Homo sapiens: one gene and its partners. The protein of the gene in region 1 interacts with the protein of each later gene in a biochemical or structural test. Each region holds a gene or a part of one and is shown in the gene's direction. Other genes may lie near its edges. The genes, in order: RCHY1, CAMK2G, GORAB, SRPRB and AIG1.

The links.
Region 2: of the proteins of RCHY1 (region 1) and CAMK2G, one has a biochemical effect on the other in vitro, tested with the Homo sapiens proteins (one study listed by BioGRID).
Region 3: the proteins of RCHY1 (region 1) and GORAB form a complex in vitro, tested with the Homo sapiens proteins (one study listed by BioGRID).
Region 4: of the proteins of RCHY1 (region 1) and SRPRB, one has a biochemical effect on the other in vitro, tested with the Homo sapiens proteins (one study listed by BioGRID).
Region 5: the proteins of RCHY1 (region 1) and AIG1 form a complex in vitro, tested with the Homo sapiens proteins (one study listed by BioGRID).

The regions. Positions count from the first base shown.
Region 1 is NC_000004.12:75,493,904-75,497,425, reverse strand, and holds part of RCHY1 (RING finger and CHY zinc finger domain-containing protein 1), read left to right. Parts: intron 1-3,246; coding exon 3,247-3,325; intron 3,326-3,522. UniProt on the Homo sapiens protein: E3 ubiquitin-protein ligase that mediates ubiquitination of target proteins, including p53/TP53, TP73, HDAC1 and CDKN1B. Mediates ubiquitination and degradation of p53/TP53; preferentially acts on tetrameric p53/TP53.
Region 2 is NC_000010.11:73,819,046-73,822,567, reverse strand, and holds part of CAMK2G (calcium/calmodulin-dependent protein kinase type II subunit gamma), read left to right. Parts: intron 1-837; coding exon 838-886; intron 887-2,922; coding exon 2,923-3,036; intron 3,037-3,522.
Region 3 is NC_000001.11:170,549,155-170,551,760, forward strand, and holds part of GORAB (RAB6-interacting golgin), read left to right. Parts: intron 1-2,606.
Region 4 is NC_000003.12:133,812,293-133,815,814, forward strand, and holds part of SRPRB (signal recognition particle receptor subunit beta), read left to right. Parts: intron 1-3,297; coding exon 3,298-3,434; intron 3,435-3,522. UniProt on the Homo sapiens protein: Component of the signal recognition particle (SRP) complex receptor (SR). Ensures, in conjunction with the SRP complex, the correct targeting of the nascent secretory proteins to the endoplasmic reticulum membrane system.
Region 5 is NC_000006.12:143,063,880-143,067,401, forward strand, and holds part of AIG1 (androgen-induced gene 1 protein), read left to right. Parts: intron 1-3,522. UniProt on the Homo sapiens protein: Hydrolyzes bioactive fatty-acid esters of hydroxy-fatty acids (FAHFAs), but not other major classes of lipids. Show a preference for FAHFAs with branching distal from the carboxylate head group of the lipids.

The DNA.
Region 1 (3,522 bases):
AGCTCAGCATTTGCCTTATTTAAACACAGTTTGAACCGAGGACTGCCTGTGATTGGATGAAACTTGGTGATTGATTGGTACTAGAGTAGGTTACTGTAGGTAAACACATCCAGTTAGGTTACAGTTAACTATGTACAGCAAAGCCTTTTAGGACGATCTTAAAATATGTAGGAGGCAGCGTTAGGCTCAACTGAACACATGTATGTTAGGTTGCTTGAAGTTGTCTCACAGCTTACTCATGCTCTGTCGTTTTAAAAAAATTCCCTTTTCTTCCTATTTCATTTCGGATAGTTTCTGTTACTGTGCCTTCAAGTTGACTAACCTTTTTGTTAGCAATATCAAACTTGCCATTAGTTTCATCAGTGTATTTTTAAATCTCAGACATTGTAGTTTTTATGTCTAGAAGTTTGATCTGGGTCTTTAAACATATTTTTCATATTTAATACTTTTTTAATGTAATGGTATACAGTTATAATAACTTTTAATGCCCTGTATTAATTCTAACATCTGTGTCTGTTCTGGGTTGATTGATTGATTATTCTTCTCATTTTAGGTTGTGTTTTTCTGCCTCTTTGTTGCCTGGTTATTGTGGGTTGGATATCAGATGTGATTTTTCTTTTTATCATGTTTAGTGCTGGGTATTTTTGTATTCCTATAAATCTTCTTGAGCTTTATTTTGGGATGCAGTTAAGTTACTTGGAAACAGTTTAGACTTTCTGGGATTTACTTTTCTAATTTGTTAGGTAGATCTACAGAAGGGCTTATCCCAGGGCTATTCTCCACTGTTGAGGCAATATCCTTCTGAATACTCCACCCGGAGCCTGCGAATTATGAGTTTCCCCAGTCTGTTTGATGGGATCAGGCACTGTTCCTAGCCATGTGTGAGTAGTACTGTTCTCATTCTTTAGAAGGTTGTTTCCCTGGCTTTGGGTAGTTTTCTTACATCCATGTGCTGATGGGTATCCTACTAAATATTTCAGAGGTTTCTCTGTGCAGCTCTCTCCTATCTGATGCTCTGTCCTATGAATCTGTCTTGGTTTCTCTAGACTGTCTCAGCTCATCATTTCAATCATGATGTCTTCCTAGCTCACCCTTAGTTCTTCTAACCTGTCCTGGCCTCAAAACTCTCTAGGCAATAAATGAGCAATTTTAGGGCTCACTTACTTTGTTTCTTATCTCTCACAGATCACTCTGTGTTGTTGCCTGATGTTCAGTGAAACTGCTGTTTCATATATTCTGTCTTTTGTCATTATTTTTTCAGATGGGAGGGTAGGTCTGATCTCCGTTATTCTATCTTTGGCAGTAGTGGAAACGTCCCTGCAGAATTTTACTTATGGAGTTTGACAGCCTATTCTAAAGTTCATTTGTAAGAGAAAATTCACAATAGCTGAGTAAATTTTGAAGGAAGGACAACGAAGAGTGGATTGCCGTTCCACATATCAAAACATGATAAAGCTATAGTAATTCAAATAGTTTGCTGTTTGTGCAGGAATAGACGAATAGATAAATATGTGTGTGTGTATATACACAGACAAATATTTATACATATGAATTTATGGCAAAAGTGACATTTCAAATCAGGAAAGGGTAGTATTAAGATAATTGATTATCCATTCGGAAACCAAAAATTGACTCTTCAAACTGTATTCATTAGAGTATGGATTTAGCATCTTGTGACAGAAACCCAAAGTAATGGTGGTTCAAGAAAGGCAGAAGTTCATTTCTCATGGAAATAAATCTGAGTTGTGTAGCTAAACAGGAACTCAGGCTCTTCTTGTTTTTTGCCTTGTCACCCATAAGATATTTTCTTGTCTCTGTAGTCTAAAATGCCTCATATTCTGGTCTGTAGAAAGGCTAGTTAGGTGAAGGGAAGGCATATTTTTCCTCTTGAGGGTACAATGCAGAATTTTCATGTATCTCTTCTGTTCCCAACGTCCAGGTATGTTGGAAAATAGTCTTTATTCAGGACAGTTCTGAATAGCTCAGTGCCTAGCTAAATACCCTATCATTGTAGAAGAAGTGGAGAATAGAAATTTAGGGACAAGTAGCAATCTAACCTTTGCCATATATAGCAAATTTCAAATGGATTAAAGAAAAATATAAAAATGAAAAGCTGTAAGTACTAGAAGTATACATAGGAGAGTCTGTTTATGATCTATAGGTTACAAAAGTTTCCTAAACAAGAGGCAGAAAGCATAAGCTATACAGGAAAATATTGATGACTTTTTACCACATAGTAATTAAAAATGGCTATATGACAAAGTTAAGAGAAATCACAGACCAGAAAAGTAAATATAAAATATGCAAATAAAAAATTGATATTGGTGATATATAAATATAATACATGCGAATGAAAACATTGATATTCATTATATAAATAACTAATATTCATGATATATTTTTTACCAGTAAATTGGTTAAAAACAAATACTTCAGTAGAAAAATGGACAGAACATATGAACAGACAATCCACAGAGAAATCCAAGTAGTTCATTAATGTACAGTCCCTGTCTCATTATTTGTGAAATGCAAATTAAAATGACATCTTTTGTTTGTCTATAATACAAGTAACCATGTTACCCAAAGTGTGGGGAACATGGTTACTCTCATGCAGTGTTGGTGGAAGTATAAATTGGTACTGTCTATTTGGAGGTCAGTTTGGCAGTATCACAATTAATGTTGCAACATCTTCTGACTCAGTAGTTTCACTTCTAGGAATCTCGTAAAAAATAATCAACATGTGAACTAAGTGATGTCTGGACAAGGATGTTTACTGTATCATTGTAGCAACTAAAGATCATAAATTATGATCTTTCTGAGGGAATATTTAAAAAAATTAGTATACATCCATGCCATTAATGTAGCTATTAAGAAGAATGAAGTGGTTCTGTGTAGACAGACATAAAATCCTCAGAATATATCAAGTGAAAAAAAGTTGCAGAATGGCATCTGTAGAAAGAATCCATTAATGTAAGAAATCAAACCCGAAATGTGTGTGTGTGTCTGTGTTTCTCTCTTTTTGCAATTTTATAGAAAAAGAAAAAAAAGCCCTAGAAGGGTAGATACCACTCTGTGTATAGTGCTTACATTTGGAGAGGGATGTTGGGGAGATAGGGATTTATCCCATATTCTCCATTGTGGCTGGAAATTTTTTTTACAGAGACTAAACTTGTGTTTTACATAATGAACAAATCATGACTGTAGTAAAAAATAATCTAATCTTTTGGCTTTCATGTGTTTTGCTAGGATTGGTCCAAAGGAAGATTTTTTCCATTGTTTGAAATGTAACTTATGCCTAGCTATGAATCTTCAAGGAAGACACAAGGTATATAATTTAGTTTGTATAATTTTAAAAATATTACAGTGTTTTTGCAATAAGCTTAACTTCTAATATGTTTTGGAAGCATGCTAATTTTCATGTATTTCCAAGTGCAACTATATTGCTTTTTTGAAAAGCAGTATTAACAAGTAGATATTTTAAAATATGTACCTCAGAATATCTGACCTACAGTTCCTTTTCTT
Region 2 (3,522 bases), on another chromosome or scaffold:
GCAGCAAGGAGAAGCTATTGGGAGTTCTTAGCAGGAGTAACAGAATCTAGTTGACACTTTAAAACACCACTCTGGCCTCATGATCAAGAACTCTAGGGAGGCCCGGGCGTGGTGGCTCACGCCCGTAATCCCTGCACTTTGGAAGGCCGAGGCGAGTGGATCAGCAAAGGTCAGGAGCTCGAGACCAGCCTGGCCAACATGATGAAACCCCATCTCTAATAAAAATACAAAAATTAGCCAGGCATGGTGGCAGGCACCTGTAATCCCAGCTACTCAGGAGGCTGAGACAGGAGAATCACTTGAACCCGGGAGGCAGAGGTTGCAGTGAGCCGAGATCATGCCATTGCACTCCAGCCTGTGCAACAAGAGCAAAACTCTGTTTCAAAAAAGAAAAACTCTAGGGAGGAGGTAAGTGTGGAAGTTAGGGAGACCATGAAGCTGTTATCATGGTTCAGGTGTGAGATGCTGGTGGCCTGGAGTCAGGTTGTAGCTGTGCATTGGAAGTGAAGAGGTAAGACATGGGGTTTACTTTGGAGGCAGAACCAGAAGATTTTATTTTAGATTGGGCGATCTGAATATAAGGGAAAAAGAGAAAGAGAAGGATTGAGGATGACTCCAGGTTTTAGCCTGAGTAACTGGGTAGATGGTGGCATTTACCAACTGGGGGAAGACTAGGGAGGGGATTTGGGAAGAGTCAGACAGCCAGGGTGGAAGCAGAACCTTCCACAATTCCTCCTTGCACCTCTTGTAGGAGCAGAAACTCTGCTTTTGTTCTGCTTTGCTCCTCTGGCTTCCAAGGGATGGAGCATATAGAAACATGTTCTTTTTGGCCTACAGGGCTCCACAGAGAGCTGCAACACCACCACAGAAGATGAGGACCTCAAAGGTAGGTGCTGGCCCTTGGAGGGGGAAGGACTCCAGCAGTGACCCAGGTACCTGGGCTCCAATGGGGCACCTGCCTTTTCTGTCCCCAGAACTGGGAATGCTGGCTCCTATGCCCCTAGGAGAGGGCTTGGTATAAAAGCTACTTTCCACGAGCCAAGATATGAGGCCCCTGTCTGGTGTTGCTGAGTTGGGCAAGAGGCTTCTCTTCTTTGACCCCAAGTCTAAAATAGCTAAGCTAGAGATTCTCCAGGGGCCAGGGCTCAGAGAACTGTTCCTGTTGCTGATAATGATGTGCCATCCAAGAACAGGGGTACCCCAAGTCCCTGCCGAAGTAGCCTGTAAGTGCTATGAGTCATAAATAGAGTGACCAATCACTCCTGGTTTTCCTCGGACACAGAACTTTTGGTTTTAAGACTGTGATGGGCCAGGAGTGCTGGCTCACACCTGTAATACCCAGAACTTTGGGAGGGCCAGGGCAGAAGGATTGCTTGAGACCAGGAGTTTGAGACAAGCTTGGGCAACATAGCAAGACCTTGTCTCTATTAAAAAAAAAAAATTAGGAACAAATAAATAGGCCAGGTGCGGTGACTCACACCTGTAATCCCCACACTTTGGGAGGCCGAGGCAAGTGGATCACTTGAGGTCAGGAGTTCAAAACCAGCCTGGCCAACATGATGAAACCCCGTCTCTACTAAAAATACAAAAAAAGGCCGGGCGTAGTGGCTCACGCCTGTAATCCCAACACTTTGGGAGGCCAAGGTGGGTGGATCACCTGAAGGTCAGAAGTTCAAGACCAGCCTGGCCAACATGGTGAAACTCCATCTCTACTAAAAATATAAAAAATTAGCCAGGTGTGGTGGCAGGTGCCTGTAATCGTAGCTACTCGGGAGGCGGAGGTGGGAGAATCGCTTGAACCTGGGAGGTGGAGGTTGCAGTGAGCCGAGATCACCCCATTGCACTCCAGCCTGGGCAACAAGAGCGAAACTTCTTCTCAAAAAAAAAAAAAAAAAAAAAAAAAATTAGCCGGGTGTGGTGGCGGGGTCCTGTAATCCCAGCTACTCGGGAGACTGAGGCATGAAAATGGCTTGAACCCGGGAGGTGGAGGTTGCAGTGAGCTGAGATTGCACCACTGCACTCCAGCCTGGGTGACAGAGCGAGACTCTGTCTCAAGAAAAAAAAAAAAAAAAAAATATATATATATATATATATATATATATAAATATAAAACCCAGATAGTCCTGGGAACACTGGGATGAGTTGGTCACTCTAGTCCTAAGATTTTGGCCTGAATGATGGAGTTGGAACTAATCTGACAACCGTGAGGCCACATTTGGTCATGTCCTGGTGGGCCCGTAAGGACCACTAGCCTAAGCTTGGGCCTGGCTAGAGTGCCAGGGCGGTGGGAGGGCATGGCAGGCTGGACCCCCGGGAATCTCTGTCCTGCTCTTTGATTGGGCCTCCTGGAATTGCTCCCTTTGCCTGAATTCAGTAAGTGACCTTGGGCCAGGACATCAGAAAAGACAGAGGAACACTCTAGGACAGAGCTGGGAGAGCATGCCCTGGGTGGCAAGGGGGCACCAAACCTTTTGGAACCAAAAAAAATAGCAGAAAGCTGCGAGGAAGTGAATCATAGTAGCTCCAGGCCCCTGTGAGTGAGGTCAGATCAGTTTTGATTCCGGCACTGCTGGCAACATAGGAGGCGCTGTCACTGCTGGGCTCTGGACCCTGTGGCCTGGCCCCCTGGAACATCTTCCCCGGGATCAGGGGTCCTTGGACAGGCTGTTGTAAGGCTCGTCTGGAAGCCACAGCCCAGGTCTGGGCACCTGCCTGGTGCCCTCAGCTGGGAGGCCTCTCTGGCAGAGGCGGCGGCGTGGGATGTCGTCCAGTGTCCACAGCAGCCTGAGGCGAGGCGTCCCCTTGCCCCGGCTCTGCAGCGCCATGGGCTCGGGGCCTGTCTGGCTTGCTCGCTCACCTGCCTTGTTCTGTTTGTTTTGGCTGCTCTGCCTTGCCCTGCCCTGCCCTGCCCTGGCTGGCTAGCTGCCCCGCTCCGCACTGGGAATGGCAGCTCGGTGCCTGAAGGACGGAGCTCCCGGGACAGAACAGCCCCCTCTGCAGGCATGCAGCCCCAGCCTTCTCTCTGCTCCTCAGCCAGTAAGTGTGAGGGAGGCACATTCTGGCTTCCGTCTCCCTGGCTCGTCCTGAAGCCCCTCAGGGACCCCCACCACAGCTGTCAGTCCCACCCACCTGCCCGTGGTAGTAAGCTCTGGGAGCATGGCCTCTGCTGGGGGTGGGGGGTAGACTGGAGGTGCTGTTGAGACCAGGCAGGGGCCCCTGAGTCTGGGGCCCAAAGAAATATGAGAAGTGTGGGTGGAAAAACATGGCCTGGGATGAGGGGAGTAGAAAGCCCCCAGGATGTGCAGTGGGCCTTGCCTCAGCGCTGAGCCAGGAAGAAGGGCAGAGTCGGAAGTCAGGTCTGTGGGGGTGGGAGTGGGATGATGGGGAAATCGTGACAGCGAGGAACTGTGTTGGGGATGTAGTGCTTCCTGAGTCTCAGCATAACAGTATTAAGAGCATGGGGTCAGAGGCAAGATAGATCTGAGTTTAAATCCCAGCTACACTGCCTTCAAGAGTGTGAAG
Region 3 (2,606 bases), on another chromosome or scaffold:
CCCCTTTAAAATAACAAAACAGTTCTATAATTACATTTCCAGTTCACTCTGTCTTACTGTGTTATGTATAATGCTCTTATTATTTTGTTCCAGAATGTCATCATACACTAATTTGGTATTACCCACCTGACCATAGGCTGGTAGTGCAGTTTGTGAAACTAATCAATATTTTAAACATTAAATCACTCTGTGGGAGAATATATATTCGTATTTCTGGCCAGAAGGACTTTAAATAAATAAACAAAATACAAAATCTTCAGTGATTTATCCAGGGTGATAGATCAATGGAAACCAAGGGACCTGTTCGCAAATGTTAATTTCAATTCAGTATTCATGAATCCAGACTGTAAATCTCTACTGATTGACTTTGACTGGCTGAAGGAGACCACAGACTTGCAGAAAAGGGAGGTTTGAGGCAGGGTCAGGGCAGGGTATTCATACACCTATAGAGAATGTCAGAACTCTTGTCTTGTTGCAAGAACATTACATGAACAGGGTATGTTATAAAGTATGGAGATAAGGGAACTAGGTATCCAGTAGAGTTCCTTTAGAACAATTCTTTTAACATAGAGGGTTATTGAAAGATAATGGGTGCTCTCATTTTTACATTTACTATATTTACAGTTAAAAAAGGAAATAGGATAAATTAACATTATGTAAATGAGTTTTCAAGTATAAATACCAGGTCCCTAAATTTTCCATAATCTTAATTTTAGATTCATGCTTACTAATATATTAACAGTACTTTTTGATTCTGGTGTTCTAAATGAGAAGTTCTGTTTCTTGAGCACCTACCAGGCACAAAACTGGAAGTTTGCCCCATTTATACTGTTTAATCTTCAAAACTCCTATGAGGTATTATTATCATCATTGTTTTACAGGTAGACCAAGACTCAGCTTAAGTAACTGCTCAGAGTCACTGTGCCGGAATTTTCAGTTATTGCATGCCTCTTCCCCAACCCCTTCCAGAGGAACCTGGCTGTGTTTTGGACTCAGGATGCTGACCTGGGGCATACCTAATTAGAATAGTGATGGGCTACCGACTCCAGTACATTTAATCCATAGGCTAAATAGTGGTTCACGGCATGGCCTGACACTAAGAGTTCTGTTTAAACTGAGATGAGCCGGGCAAACCTATGTTCTCCTCTGAGAGTGTGGAATTGGATCACTGAGAGATTGGGTGGAGTGAATTTGATACAGAGTGCAGGTGGTGGCCATATTGGCCTGTGAGTATGATAGGAAAGCTGAAATGAGAGAAAATGTGTCGCTTCTAAGCATTGAAAAGAATAGCCTTTGATTCTGATGACATGACTATGAAATTGCCTCGTGTATCCTACAATAAAACCCAATTTTTACCTGAGCTAGTTTGACTGGATATCTGTTCTTTGTATCCACAAGAAGCCTTGACCGAAATGGGTACACATGGTAAATGTCAGGAAGGTTTTGAACCCTGAGTTTTCTAAAATGAAAGCCATTTATTATTTTCACTGTATTTTCTTCCAAGACAGAGAATCCTAAATTAGGAGATATACCTGTTTCTTTTTTGCTATAACTCTTGTACTAGAAGCTACTTATTACACTAAGTTGATGTAGGCACTCATAACAGGTAAAGCAGCATGGCCTTCACAACTGCTAATGGTAATGAAATTAAAGAACTAGTTGGAAATCAATCTTTTTTCTTGCAAGAGAGGAAGGACCCTCTTGTTGCAAAAAGAAAAGCAACAAATTTTATAGAAAAGGCAAAAGACAATAAATTAAGACACGATAACTCTTCTTTTTGTACTGACCTAATGCAGAAGAAAAAAAGTGAGATTGCAAGGTGACTTCTCTAGTAGAATTGCCCTATTTCACATAAGACTTCACATAAGATTACCTGTCAACAGAGTTTATACATGTGTAACTATGTAAAATTTCCTAGTAAGAGTGTAAGAGGAGTAGTGGAGAGAATGAGAACAACTTAACCCAAGGATTCTCAACTGGGAGCATTTGTGTCCAATAAGGGACATTTGGCAATGCCTGGGGACATTTTTGGTTGTCATAAATTTTGGGAATTACTGGCAACTAATGGGTAGAAGCCAGTGATGCTGTTTAGCATCTTGCAGTGCAGGACAGCTTCTCACAACAAATAATTATATGGCCCAAATTGTCAGTAGCACCAAGGTTGAGAAATCCTGCATATAGCTATCCTGAGGTTTTCTACTTGATGTTTACTTCTTGCCCTCACCCAGTATCATTTTGCTGGGTGTGCTCTGTTCCATTTATATTCATCTCCCGACCACTGTCCGTATCTTTCTCCATCAGAATTTTTCTTTTTTTCTAATTTATTAATCAAGAGAACAATTTTCCACTTTCTCCATCTCTTGTCTGTCTTCTCATAAATTTAACCAGCTGTGTGCTGAAGCTAGCTTACCCTGGTTCATGTGGATTTTGTGTATCTCTTCCCAGTTCTGCATTCAGTAATATCACGTTGGTGGCTTGAAATTGGACAGGGTGGTAGTAATTATCCCATGGAAATGTAAACGCTACAAATCAGGGCTCCCCATCCTCCCACCCCAGAACTAGCATACCACTGAATTAACCTTTTAGCCTGCCTTCACTCAAAAACA
Region 4 (3,522 bases), on another chromosome or scaffold:
CAAGATGGTGGTGATGAACAATTTGTCACAGATAAGAAAATTCCTTGGACAATTGAGACAAATCTAGAGCTGGTAAATTTTGCCATAATTGGGTTTTTATTTCCAATTAAATGTTTTTTCTTTTTCTATTGCCAGTTCTAAATATTTTATGATTTGCAGTATAACTACTCTGTGATTCATGTATTTTGGGTAAATAAAACATGCAAAATATGAAGATAAAACTTAGTTCAAATAAATTATAATCATGATAACATGCAAGTTGAAAAGACATTTACTATATTGGTATGTGACTTTTTTTTAATCCTACTTTCTGGCTTCGCCAAGTTTCCCTAGTGGCTATTTTCCCTCTCCTGATTTGAACATATGCTGTTGCTGTTCTTATCATGGTTCCCCTCCCCCATCTTTTAAACATTGCCTATTTGATTGTCTGAATCCAATAATATCAGTTTCCTTTTCCTGAACCTTAAACACTTTAACTTTCATCTTCCTCACATCTTCCTTTTATTTATGCTCCTTTTTAACCCCCATCCATACTTTTTTTTCCTCTTACATTCAGTGATGAGAATTACCAGGATGCTTATGGTCTTTTGCTCCCCATTGCTTCTTGAATTTTACTTCTTCCCTTTAGATTCAGTTTTCCCTCACTGAGTATATCTTTTAGAAGTGTTTCCAGAGAGGGTGATGAGTAGTCAAATGTTTTCAGTCTTTGTTCATTTGTAACTCTATTTGGCCAGCATTTTGGAATGTCTCTTTTAGCTGAGTGCAGAGTCCTGGGTGGCAGCCGCATCACTCCTGACCTCATCCATCTGTTGCAGATGAGAATGTTTTTGCCAGTCAGTCTAATTGTCATTTCACTGTAGTAAGTCTGCCTGATTTGACCTTCTATCCAGGGATAGATTTTCTTCTGTTCAAGGATGGATTTAGCTTTATCATTCTTGGAATTCAGTTGTGCTATTCCAAACCAAAGATTCTCCTCAGTTTTGGAAAATTCTCACCATCGTTTCTCCAGGTAGTGCTGTTTCCCCATGATCATTTCTCACACTCTGGAATTCTTATGAATGTTATTGAACCTTATTATTTTTGCCTTTCTTGTTTCCTCTCTATCGTATCTTCCAGATCTTTCTACTTCGCATATTGTAAGATTCCCTCAGATTTGTTTTCTAGTTTATTACATTATTTTCAGCTGAGCATGATCTCTGCTTAACTTTTCCATTGATTTATTAATATCATTTACTATATTTGTCTAAAATACTTACCTTTTCAAACCAGCCTGTTTCTTTTTATACTATTCTATTTTTTATTGTAGTTTGTAGTATTTTCTTAAATAATTTTAAACATTTACTTTATAGATAGCTTTATTATCTTAGTTTTGGGGTGCTGATTATTCTCTTTGGGGTACCAGTTATTCTCCCTCATAATTATTTTATTCTGTGCCTTGTAATTTTTGCTCCAGAACCTTTCTTCAAGAGTGACACATCATTGATATTGTGGTGGTTCTTTAATCCCGTAGGATATGAAAGCCTTGCTCCATAAGCGGTTCATAGTTCCTTCTGTTGGGGCCATAGGGCTTCAATAAGTCTGGCCCAATTTTTATGTAAGCCTTTCCCCTTGGGGGTCTTACACCTGGAGAGAGTATAAATTCATACCCTATATCTGTGTGAGGCAGTGGAGGCCCGCTGTTTCTAAGGGAACTTTTTTTGCAAGCCCCGACCTCCCTGAGACTATTTTAAGTTGTAGGCTTTGTGCAGGGCATTCAGTTCTAGCTCCCCAGCTGCATGTTGGCCATTGCATGTCTCTTATCTCCACCTGGGCATTCAAACCCTTGTCCATAAGGCTTGTATTTTTTTTTTTTTTTTTGAGACGGAGTCTCGCTCTGTTGCCCAGGCTGGAGTGCAGTGGCGCGATCTTGGCTCGCTGCAAGCTCTGCCTCCCAGGTTTACGCCATTCTCCTGCCTCAGTCCCCTGAGTAGCTGGGACAACAGGCACCCGCCATCACACCAAGCTAATTTTTTGTATTTTTAGGAGAGACAGGGTTTCGCCGTGTTAGCCAGGATGGTCTCGATCTCCTGACCTCGTGATCCGCCCGCCTCGGCTTCCCAAAGTGCTGGGATTACAGGCGTGAGCCACCGCGCCTGGCCGGTTTTTTTGTTTTTTTGTTTTCTTTGAGATGGAGTTTCGCTTTGTCACCCAGGCTGGAGTGCAGTGGCATGATCTCAGTTCACTGCAACCTTCGCCTTCTGGGTTCAAGTAACTCTTCTGCCTCAGACTCTCAAGTAGCTGGGATTACAGGCTCCCGCCACCATATCTGGCTAATTGTTATATTTTTAGTAGAGATTGGGTTTCATCATGTTGCCCAGACTTGTCTCGAACTCCTGACCTCAAGTGATCTGCCTGTCTCGGCCCCCCAAAGTGCTGGGATTACAGGCGTGAGCCACCGCACCCGGCCCCCTAAGACCTGTTGTCTGCAGTTTCCCTGGGCTGCTGCACTTTAGCTTTGATATCTCTTTGTTTCTGTCACATGAGGAGTCCCACTATGGCTGCCTTAGTTCAGGCCCTACCTGGTCACTGTGCTTCTAGTTCAAGCGCCCTCTAAGATTGCTTTGTCTTCCATTTAGGCACCAATATTCTTCATAAGACAGAAAAGCATGAACTCCACAGGTCATTGTGTCACGCCTCACTGTCTGACTTGGTTCTCCTTCATTTCCCCATCTCCCTGTGTACCAGCTTACCTTGACTTCCCCAGGGAATGTGTTTCACGTATTTGTGGCTTGAACATACTGTAGGCTGAGTATCCCTTATCCAAAATGCTTGGAACCAGAAGTGTTTTGGATTTTAGACTTTGGATTTTTGGATTGGGGATACTCAACCTGTACTTTCCAGACAGCCTGTGCCCCAATTTTTGGTCTAGCTAAGATTCAACTCAACTGTTACATTCTCCTTAAAGTTGCCTTTGACCTGGTCTCATTTAAATGATCTTTCTCTTTATTCCTGTTACACATGTGCATAGTTTTGTCTTGGCATTTATCATATGGTTCTCTATATGATGATTTGTCTTGGAGGACAGGCATCATTTCTTACTGTCTTTTTTCAGCTTCAGTCATTGATACACAGTAGCACTCAATAGTTCCTTGTTAAATGAGGATTTATGTTATATGATAACATATGCACAGACCTGCATGTGTGTCTGCTGAGTGTTAATCACCAAGATTGACTTTGAAGAAGTTCAGGATAGTTTTTCAAGATAATGATGTCCTGTTACACGTTCACATGCCAGTTTTTCTTGTTTTCTCCCTCCAGGGCTATTGTGTTTGTTGTGGATAGTGCAGCATTCCAGCGAGAGGTGAAAGATGTGGCTGAGTTTCTGTATCAAGTCCTCATTGACAGTATGGGTCTGAAGAATACACCATCATTCTTAATAGCCTGCAATAAGCAAGGTGCCATCATGTTTTCTTGCAATAATAATTGAGTTTTTTGGGGATTGCTGCTACTAAGAATTATTTCCATTATTTACAGTTGTTATTA
Region 5 (3,522 bases), on another chromosome or scaffold:
ATTTCTCTCCTTGGGTATGAGGGTCATTCCAGTAGATTCAGAGCTTATGGTCAAAAACTGAAATACACATTGTTGCTACCAGTAATCTTATACTGTTATTCTCCAATGGTTTCTTTTCCTAGTATTGAGAAACTGTAAGAGAACTAAGGTGTTTTTGGAAAATTGAAGTTAGTAAATGGAAAAAGAACACTGTCTTGGTGTGGTAGGCAGAATAATGGGCCTCCAAAGATGTTTACATTCTCATGCCAGGAACCTGTGAATACATTAGGTTACATGGCAAAGGGAAATTAAAGTTGCAGATGGAATTAAGATTGCAAATCAATTGACCTTAAAATAGGGTAATTATCCTGAGTTATCCCATTGGGCCCAATGTAATTACAAGGGTCCTTAAAAGGAATAGGGAAACAGAAGACAAGAGCTTGTTGGAGGAAGATGTGACTGGAAGAAAGTCAGAGAGAGATACGACAATGCTGGGTTTGAAGATGGAGGATGGAGCCAGGAGACAAGGGGTGTGAGAGGTGTCTAGAAGCTGGAGAGGACAAAAAAATGGTTTTCCTCCTAGAGTTTCCAGGAACACATACCTGCTGACAGCTTAATGGTAGTGTATTTTGGACTTCTGACCTCCAGAATTGTAAAATAATAAATTTGTGTCATTTAAGCCATTCAATTGATAGTAATTGGTTACCACAGTAATAGAAAACTAGTATACTTGGCTTTAAAGCCTCTGACTTAGAAAAAAAACTTAACTCTTTTTGTACTTATATGAAATAAATGCAGTGACTCAGCTAGCCCTTTATGTATAGTAGATAACTGGTTAATTTTAGCTTTAACAAAAATGCAAGTTTTTTCCTACTTCATCCATGAAATTATGTGGAGGAGACATACATATGTGTAACAGTGGGCAATATGAGGATTTGTAAAGACTGGACTGTCAAGCGTGTCTGTGTGAAGAGACCACCAAACAGGCTTTGTGTGAGCAATAAAGCTTTTAATTCACCTGGGTGCAGGCGGACTGAGTCTGAGAAAGGAGTCAGCGAAGGGAGATGGGGAAGGGGTTGCTTTATAGAAGTTGGGTAGCTAATGGAAAATTACAGTAAAAGGTGGTTATTTATTGTTAGCAGAGAAGGGGGTGACAAGGTACATGGTGGGGAGATCATAAGACTTATTGTCCAGAAGAAGAATGTCACAAGGTCGGTTGATCAGTTAAGGTAGGGCAGGGACAAGTCACAACGGTGGAATGTTGTAATGTTGGTTAATCAGTTAAGGCAGGAATTGGCTGTTTTACTTCTTTTGTGGTTTTTCGGTTGCCCCAGACTTCTTGGCTCCTGCAGGCCATCTGGATGTATATGTGTAGGTCACAGGGGTTACAATGGCTGAGCTTCGGCTTAGAGGCCTGACATGGACAACTTTGGAAAAACTAGGTCTTTACTATGAAGTATTTCAGAGACTATCATTAAGTAACATGTCAGGCCAGGAGAAGAAATACACTTAATTGGAAATAAGCTGGAAAGAAAGAAAATTTAAACTAGCTGTTACTCAAATATTAACACTTTCTTAGTCAATATCACAGCTGATGAATTTTCTTCAAGTGATGTGGATTCATTCACTAGCAAAATGATTATGCTGTGTGTTACATGATAATTGCCCCAAAAGATAATAAAGAAGAATTAGGATAAAACCAACATAAATAAATGAAAAGAAAAAGGCAAATGTATTTTGAGGTCTTAAAGTAGTATTTGGGGTATAATAGGTGTTTAGTAAATGTTTAAGTAAATGGAAGCTTTCTCTTCCCAAATTTTCATTGAGTATTCTTTTCTTGTCCTGTCTCCTCCCAAAAACATTCAAAATGATAGGAATTTAAAAATGTATCAACCAGAACATTATTCATATGTATATGGTAGAGTCTAACAGATGAGTCAGAATCAACTTCTTTGAAAACCATGAACTGGATTTTTTAGAAAACTTAAAATATTGATGATGGATGTAAGACATCTTGATTTTTAAAGATTGAAACATATCTGGGAATCCCATTGGCTCTAGTTTGTAGTACTGGCCATTTTGAGAGTCATCCTCTCTTAGGGCCGTATCATACCCATTATTCCTCCTAGACTGGCTTTTCATTCATGTCATGGCAGAATATTGTTCAGGCCCTGCCTACTCAAAGTGCGGGCTGAGGACCAGCAGGATCAACTTTGTCTGGGAGCCTGTAAGAAATGTGGCATCTCCAGCTCCACCCCAGAGCTTCTGAATCAGAGTCTGCATTTTAATAAGATCATCAGGTGATTTCTATGCACATTCAAGGTTGATAAATGCTGCTCTAAGTTGCATTGTTTTTTCATTTACATGGATTAATTGTAGGACCCTGTAGAGCAGTCTTAATATATGAATTCTGCCTATTTTCTTTGTTTTTTTTTTGAGACAGAGTTTCACTCTGTCACCCAGGCGAGTGCAGTGGTGATCTTGGCTCACTTCAACCTCCGCCTCCCAGGTTCAAGAAATTCTCCTGTCTCAGCCTCCCGAGTAGCTGGGATTACAGGCACCTGCCACCACACCTGGCTAATTTTTGTATTTTTAGTAGAGACAGGGTTTTACTATGTTGGCCACACTGGTCTCAAACTCTTGACCTCAAGTGATCTGTCTGCATTGGCCTCCCAAAGTGCTGGGATTACAGGTGTGAGCCACCGCGCCTGGCCTGAATTCTGCCTATTTTCAAAACATATTACAGATTGACTTTCACTGTGATATAACAAAAAAATGTAAGAAATTACAATTTGAAAATAAAAGAAAGATATGTTTCAGATACGAGAGATGGGTTAGTTATTGCTATTGAGAAACAAATTTAAATAATCTTCAGGGCAACTAAGGTGAAAAACAATACACATTTGATTGTATTGTCCTTATGTTGAAAGAAAGGAGGTATAACAATTTATTGGGAAAAATACAGTTCTTTCCAGGCACTGACTTTTCAAGGTAATTTATCACTCAGATATTTATTTAAAGAACATTAAGGGTGGGTATGGTGGCTCACACCTGTAATCCCAGCACTGTGGGAGGCCATGGTAGGAGGCTTGCTTAAACCCAGGAGTTCGAGACCAGCCTGGGCATCACAGCAAGGCTCCCACTACAAAAAATTAAACATTATTTGGGGGTGCTTGCATGTGCCTGTAGTCCCAGCTATGTGGGGGCTGGGGCAGGAGGATGACTTGAGCCCAGGAGTTCGAGTTTGCAATGAGCTATGATAGTGCCACTGCACTCCAGCCTGAGTGACAGAGCCAAATCCTGTCTGTAAATAAAAATAAAAAAAAAACATTGGTTAGCATAGTAGATAATGTCTTTGATTGGTTTTTAGTGTAATATATAGAAAAATTTTTATGGTTAATGTTTCTTATTTGATGGTTTTATGAAAGCCAAAGGCATGGTCTTATATTTTGGCTAGGTGAAGGCATTTTTGTAGAAGTTTAAGGTAATATAATCTAGGTACTTTTTTTGTTATCTAAATCTGTATTGCAAAGGAATTTCAGA